Linked DNA regions of Homo sapiens. The protein of the gene in region 1 purifies or fractionates together with the protein of each later gene. This does not show direct contact. Each region holds a gene or a part of one and is shown on either strand. Other genes may lie near its edges.

What was found.
Region 2: the proteins of NFIL3 (region 1) and SNX8 purify together in Homo sapiens (affinity purification with mass spectrometry; one large-scale study listed by BioGRID and IntAct). This does not show direct contact.

Annotation. Positions count from the first base shown.
Region 1 is NC_000009.12:91,417,300-91,420,952, reverse strand, and holds part of NFIL3 (nuclear factor interleukin-3-regulated protein), read left to right. Parts: intron 1-1,597; exon of another isoform or gene 1,598-3,653.
Region 2 is NC_000007.14:2,258,942-2,262,594, reverse strand, and holds part of SNX8 (sorting nexin-8), read left to right. Parts: intron 1-3,653. UniProt on the Homo sapiens protein: May be involved in several stages of intracellular trafficking. May play a role in intracellular protein transport from early endosomes to the trans-Golgi network.

The DNA of each region.
Region 1 (3,653 bases):
GGCCTCAGCTTGACTTTGGCCAGTTGAGTTGAGCCGATTTTTTTTAACCTTTAATTTATGTGGTCAAAGGCTAGAGGAGAGAGAACACTGATCTCCAGAGTTCAAAATAAAATCTAAACGCCCACATAGACGCTGCTGTCCTACTGTAAAACTACAGTACTTTCATCCTCGCATAAAGACTTCCAAGATTGTACCCATGCAGTAATTCATGGAGACATCACAGATGTTCTCCTGAAGCATATCAACGCAATCTGCTCTTTGTTGAAAACTGACCGAAAACTTGCTTTCTTTGGCATCATACCCTACACCGCTATCCCTAATCAGTTTCCCTCCTGTTACAGGCAGTAGTTAGAGAACAGGTTTCGGTGAGGTACAGATCCTAAGAGCGCAGGCCCTGGGCTCACAAGAACCCTGGGTCCCAGGCCCCAGCTTGTTATCTTCCAACACTGTCCTGATTTCCATCACTCTCCAGGGTAAACTGAGGGAATAAAACCTGTTGACTTAGTTGGTTGTGAGGAGTTCAATAAATGTTTCCTGTGTTATTGATCAGGAACCAGAATCTGTGTGTGTGTGTGTGTGTGTGTGTGTGTGTGTGTGTGTATTTACCTTCATTTTTCTCTTTGTAAATCTCTTCGCAGTAACAGTAAGGATTCGTGTTGGAATTAAGTCTGTAAGATCTTTCTTGAGATACTTTTTTTGTTCTAATAATATATATATTTTTTAATTTGCCATCGTGTTCAATGTTAATTTCAGTTTGAGGGGAATTCCTGACAGGATTGCAGAACCTCAAACTTCCCAAGTCATTGGGTTAATGTTTTGGGGAGCTGCTTGAAGGAATAGAGAGATGAGTCGATTATAGTAGCAGGAATGACGTGACAATTGCCATATTAATAGCTCAGCTTTTTCCAATTCCCTTACACATTCTGTGACTCATTTTCTGTAGCTTGGATGATTTCTCTATCTAAAACTTTGTGGTCTGAGATCAGCAGTGGATGGTGAGACCCCACAGATAAGCTCTCTTGTAGGGGGTATATGTAGCCTGAAAACTAAGGCCAGTCCTGTGAAACTGTTGATATTTGACCCTTTTGACCAAATTTTCATTTGGTTTACCCTTACACTTGCGACATAGGTCAGGGCTTCAGTAAGAGTCACGAGCAGCAAAAACAGCCTGGAACTGATAGGCATCGTTGCCTTTTGATACTGATCATTCTTCAGAAAAGAGATAAAGAGTTAGTATTTACTAAACACATACTCTGCATGTGCCAGGCACAGTGTTGAGGGGCTCTGTTATCATCCACATTTCATAGATGAGGAAATGGAAACTCAGAGAAATGAATTTGCAGCCCAGGTCGCAGAGCCTGAAAACCAGATGGGGAAATTTGCACCTCAACAAAGTGTATTCTCACACTCACTGTAGTTTTTGAAACAATTTCCTTTTCTGGGTTAAAGACTTATTTTTGTGCAGTGCAGTTATAACATCACTGTGATGCAACAGCCTGAAAATTAAAACCCTTTGTGAGAGGCCTTTCGGACGTTGAGCAATGTGCCTGACTCACCAGCTGAGTGGATTTTTCTAGTTGACCTTGCCTTGGTCATTAGAGTCAATTTCGAGATGTAAATGCGATTGCAGCATGGAATGGAAAAGGTGCAGTCATATTGCCTGGGCTTTATTTTTACCCAGGTTAAACTCATATACTTCATGATTTCCATTGTAATCCAGATGCCATTGATGCTGTTAAAGTTGTTTATTTTTAATTTGTATTGAGGAATGAGAGCACACTTGGGATTCAATTCAAAATATAACAGAAACAATGTAATTGAAATTGCCTTTAATATTCATTTCTTGTTTTTGTAAGGTATGCCTGTATTTCACGGGGTTTAATACATTGTTTGATATCCTGTTATTTTTCTAAATTATATTTGAGTTGATTTCTATCCAGGTTGGACTTGTATGAGAATGTTGAAAGACGTTGACCTTTGATCACAGACATTACAATATGAATTTTTCAGTTTCAAAATGAATTTTTATTACTACTACCCCAGTTATCTTTCACATTTCTTTGTAAGTAACTTTACTGTAGTTAAAAAAAAAAAAAACACCCAAAACTGTTTCTCATATGGCTTTAATAATAGAGCATAAACTTGTTTTTATGATAAGAAAGTTTACTAGAGATTTGCTAGATGCCATTTGTTATTAATCTGTGCTTTGAGGACTCAGTTTCATAGGACTCAGAATGATGTTTATAAGCCTTTTAGTTATCAGAACATGATGTCTTTTATTAATTAGCTTTTTAGGGGTCTTAAACTGTAATTAACTGGCCTTCAAATAAACACTACAAATAAGCATTTGAAAATCCACTCTATTCATAAGGTAGAAAATGACATTTATAATCATCCACTGACTGGAAAAGTGGAAAAAGAAATTAAAAAGCCAAGTGAAGCAAGTTGGGATGATTCTACATTATCATTAGAAACTTTCAAGAATTTTCTCAGCCTGACTGTCCCCTTAGCCCACCATTTTTGCCATCATTACACCATGTTGCATGTATTACTTATTCATTGGGGAATTTTCTACAACTGGGTTACTTTGTGATTGTTGGTGTCCTTTTAAGATTTCAGATTAGTTGCTACACTGATCAGTTATCTTTTCAGAAGTTTCAAGATATTAATAGTCCCCACATTTAAGTTTCTATAGATTTTTAAAAAATTATTACTGTTCTGTTTTTCCCCCATGTTACTACCCATCTTTAGTGAGAGCTGTTCTTATTTCTCAAGCTGTGCAGTTAATTGGTCGTGCTAGCGTGTATGTGCTTACTCTGTGCAGGCTTCAGAATAATTTAATTGTGTATTAAGTTTCAAACACTGACGACCTCTTAAAGAAGAATGTTAAGTTATACTATTTCATATTTCAATTACTTAAATTACATCAGTGATGTAATAAAATGCAATGTTGTCATCGTATTTATTAAATTTAAATTTAATTTTCAGCTAGTCCTTTGTCGAACTTGAAATATTTTCATTTATCATAAACTGGATCAGGCTTTGACACATTTATTTACAGAGGCACCCAAATAGAAAAAGTAGGTCAATTTGTTGCTATGATAGAATAGATTCTGGCAGTGTGCGAGAGTGTGTGTGTATGTGTGTGTGTGCGTCTTGCCTGTCTTGATCAAGTGCACATTTCTCTCTAACTTTGGGGTAAGCTGCTTCTTGGGGACAGAATGGCCCTTAGAGAGGTTTAACATAGTTTTCTCAGCTTAAAAATCCTTCTCTTTTTCAACGGGATTAGAAAATTCTCTTGCAACTTCGGTGTTTTCTGACTGAGTTTTTTCACTCCCCATTTCCTCTGGGTTGTACATGTATAGTGAATTCTTTTCTTATTTCATCTCTGCTTTTAAATACTAGATTGTTTTCTCATCCATGAAAAGAAGTAAAGCATTTCATTGACGCAGATACTGTGAATTTTACCCACAGGAAGAAAATGTAGGGTTAACATATTGCTAGTATTCATACTTTAAAAGTATAAAGAGATGTGAATTGATTAATTGATTTGATTTTTTCATGAAAATGACATTTATCTAAAAAATAAGCATCTGCTGTCTTACTGGAGAGGTGGCTTACAGTTTAACATAACTTAGGTTTACCTTGAAGAC
Region 2 (3,653 bases), on another chromosome or scaffold:
CTTTGCTGTCTGAGTCCACTAGGATTTGGCACTGGAGACTTAACTCATCAGAATAATAAAGCCCCAGCACCTGAGCGGCTCCCACCTCCCGCTCCACACACAACCTCAGGCAGTGCTCCTGCTGCATGGGCAGAAGCTGATTTCAGAAATTCGCCAAGATCTTGGAGTCATTTGGGATCAGTTTGAAGATACGGTGTTTACTATCACACTGGAAAGCTCATCTGGGTGCTTTTATGTTAAGAAAAAGTGTTACATGGCTGGGCACAGCGGCTCACACCTATCATCCCAGCGCTTTGGGAGGCTGAGGCAGGAGGACTGCTTGAGCCCAGGAGTTCAGGACCACCCTGGGCAACAGAGCAAGATCTCATCTCTATCAAAAATAAAAAAAAATTAGCCAGGGGTGGTGGTGCGTGTCTGTAGTCCCAGCTACTCACGAGGCTGAGGTGGGAGGATCACCTGAACCCAAGAGGTAGAGGCTTCAGTGAGCCATGATGGTGCCACTGCACACCAGCCTGGGCGACAGAGCGAGACCCTGTCTCAAAAACAAAAAAAAGTGGACATAGTTGTGAATGTGGGAGCTTGCTGCCTAGTTCCTATTTCTTGGGAAAGTGGCCTCCAGGCTACTCATATTAGTTTGAAGAGAGTGATCAGAGTGTGCCCGTGAGGGCTGTGCTTCCCCTGAGCCCCGGAGCTCCTGAGTGGCTTGGTGAATGGTGAACCCACCTGCTGTGGAGTCGGGGCTTTTTAAGCTGGAAACGGGGCGCTCAGGTGCCCGTGACGTTTTTCGTGCTGAAGAGGAAATTCGATGTCTTTGCTGGTGTGGAAAGTCTTGGGTTTTCTTCCTCTTCCGCCCCCGTGCTTCTGTGTTCCCTTTAGAAACGGAGGGAGGGCACTGTTGGTTTCTGTAGATTGGGGCTGAGTCTCTTCTGTCTCCAGGTCTGTGTGCCCACTCCCCCCAGGTGGAGGGGACCGAGAACGTGGGGCTGGGGGCTTTTCAGGATAGAGACAGAGGACCTCAGGGCCCTGCCCTATGCATTGTGTGTCTGTGCTGTGACCATGATCAAGCTATTCTGGTCTCCAGGCCTCAGTTTCCCCATCAATTAAATACAAGGGGGTTGGACTAGATTATTAAAACAGCTATTTCTTTTTTTTGTTTGTTTTTGAGACGGAGTCTCGCTCTGTCGCCCAGGCTGGAGGGCAGTGGTGTGATCTCGGCTCACTGCAACCTCTGCCTCCCGGGTTCAAGCGATTCTCCTGCCTCAGCCTCCCCAGTAGCTGGGATTACAGGTGTGCACCACCACACCCGGCTAATTTTTGTATTTTTAGTAGAGATGGGGTTTCACCGTGTTGGCCGGGCTGGTCTCAAACTCCTGACCTCAAGTGATCCGCCAGCCTCGGCCTCCCAAAGTGCTGGGATTACAGGCACGAGCCTCTGTGCCCAGCCAAAGGAGCTGTTTCTGTAATCTGCTGACCCTTTCCCCCAAGCTCAGTGTGCAAAGCATAAAAGCCATTCTTGTCACAGGGACCCAGAACCTTCCCACATTCCACTCCCTCTTCAGCAGGTGGCTGTTGGCGGGGTGCCCAGAGTGCCCTGGGGCTCTGCAGAGCTCAGGATGAGCATCACTCATGAGGTGATTTCCAAGGTTTTTTCTGATTCAGCCCTGGATGCCGCATTTCCACCTTGAAGAGGGAGAGAAGGTTGAGGCTTCTGGTGCAGTAGGAGTTTATGGCTTGAGGTTCTGCCCAGCTCTGTGACTCTTGGACATCTCATGAGTTGTGTTTTGGGACTGTGATGTCTGGAGAAGTGCTGTTTCCTGAATCTCTCTCACTGTCCTTGGTTGTAGTGAAATTGAGCTTTTACATGAAACAAACCTCGAGGCCTTTCATTTGATGCAGCAGAAGTTCCATCTCACCCTTGCTGTTCAGTCGGGGGCAGCGAGGACCGTTTTTCCTAAGTCTGCTTGTACTTACACCAGTTATACTCTCCCCAGACCTATTAGGAGCTGAAGGTAGCCATATCCCAGCAAGACACGTGAGACTCGGAGTAGGGTCTGTGTTTTCCATGGTGACGGGATCTTCGCCTTGGTTAAAGGCGCATGCATTAATGGTTTAGGGCACATTTGTCCAACCTGTGGCCCACAGGCTGCGTGTGGCCCAGGACAGCTTTGAATGTGGCCTAACACAAATCCGTAAACTTGGTTGGGTGCAGTGGCTCATGCCTGTAATCTTAGCACTTTGGGAGGCTGAGATGGGCAGATCACCTGAGGTCAGGAGTTTGAGACCAGCCTGGCCAACATGGTGAAACCCCATCTCTACTAAAAATACAAACATTAGCCAGGCGTGGTGGCGGGCACCTGTAATCTCAGCTACTCGGGAGGCTGAGGCAGGAGAGAATCGCTTGAACCTGGGAGGCGGAGGTTGCAGTGAGCTGAGATCATGCCACTGCACTCCAGCCTGGGTAACAGAGCAAGACTCTGTCTCAAAAAAAAAGCCAAATCTGTAAACTTTCTGAAAACATTATGAGATTTACACACAGACCTACCTACCTTCCTTCCTTCCTCTCTCTCTCTTTCTTTCTCTCTCTCTTTCTTTTTTCCTTTTTTGTTTTTTTTAGTTCATCAGCTATCATAGTGTTAGCGTATTTTATGTGTGGCTCAAGACAATTCTTCTTCTTCCAATGTGGCCCTGGGAAGCCAAAACATTGGACACCCCTGGTTTAGGGCCTTGTGCAGCACTGAACCACAGATGGGACTTGGTGACAAATGACACGAACAGAGGGACCCCTGAACTCCCCCTCTTCTGCTGGGCCAGGGAATAAGCCTACATTCTCCTGAGCCCCTGCCTGGTCAGGTGGGAGCTGGGCACCTGCGGTCAGCTGGCGTTTTCTCTCTAGAGTTTTAGAAACTCTTAACACACCTCTTCTCCTGGCACATTTTACTGGCTGGAATCCCAGCTGCTTTGGGTGTGGGGTTGGTGGCCGGGGAGCCTCCGGGTTCAGTCGGCCTGAGGTCTGGAGGGTGGAAGGGGTATCTTAGGGTCCCCTGGGGTGCAGCAGGGCCTGGGCGGCACCCCTGGCTCCCATTCCAGGGCTGTGTCCCGTAAAACTCGTTCCATCCACTTCTGCCTGCCCCGTCTCCTGCTGAGCTTGACGTGCAGTGCGTGGGGTGAGCTTTTCACCCCCTACCACGGGTGGAGCCCGAGGAATCGTGGAGGGAGCTTGGTCTCCCCGAGGTGCTCAGTGAGCTGTGGGGACTGAGGGCGTGAGCTGTGGGGACCGGAGCCCTTCAGGGCCCGGGTGTGACTGAAGGCGTCAGTGTCGGGGGTTTCCCCAGGATACCTGCCATCGGCCTGGCTTGGTTGCGGTTGTGGCTGGGGGGTCTGTGGTGAGCTGTGCAGGTCAGGGGTGGATGGGCTGCCGCTTCCGCTGCCTTCCCCAGACCCCTGCTGTCTCCAGAGCTTGGATGCTCCCCTCAGTGGCAGCTGGAGCCCAGGGCTTTGGACCGACTCTTCATACCGCAGATGCCTCTGAGCACCGTGTGTTCGGGCCGTGTGCACTGTGCCTGGCCTGCGCCCCCACCGAGGGCTGCTACTGGTGTAAGCCGGGGAGGCCGAGGCAGCGTCTGGGTGGGGTTCGCCCGTGGGGGCTGCTTCGT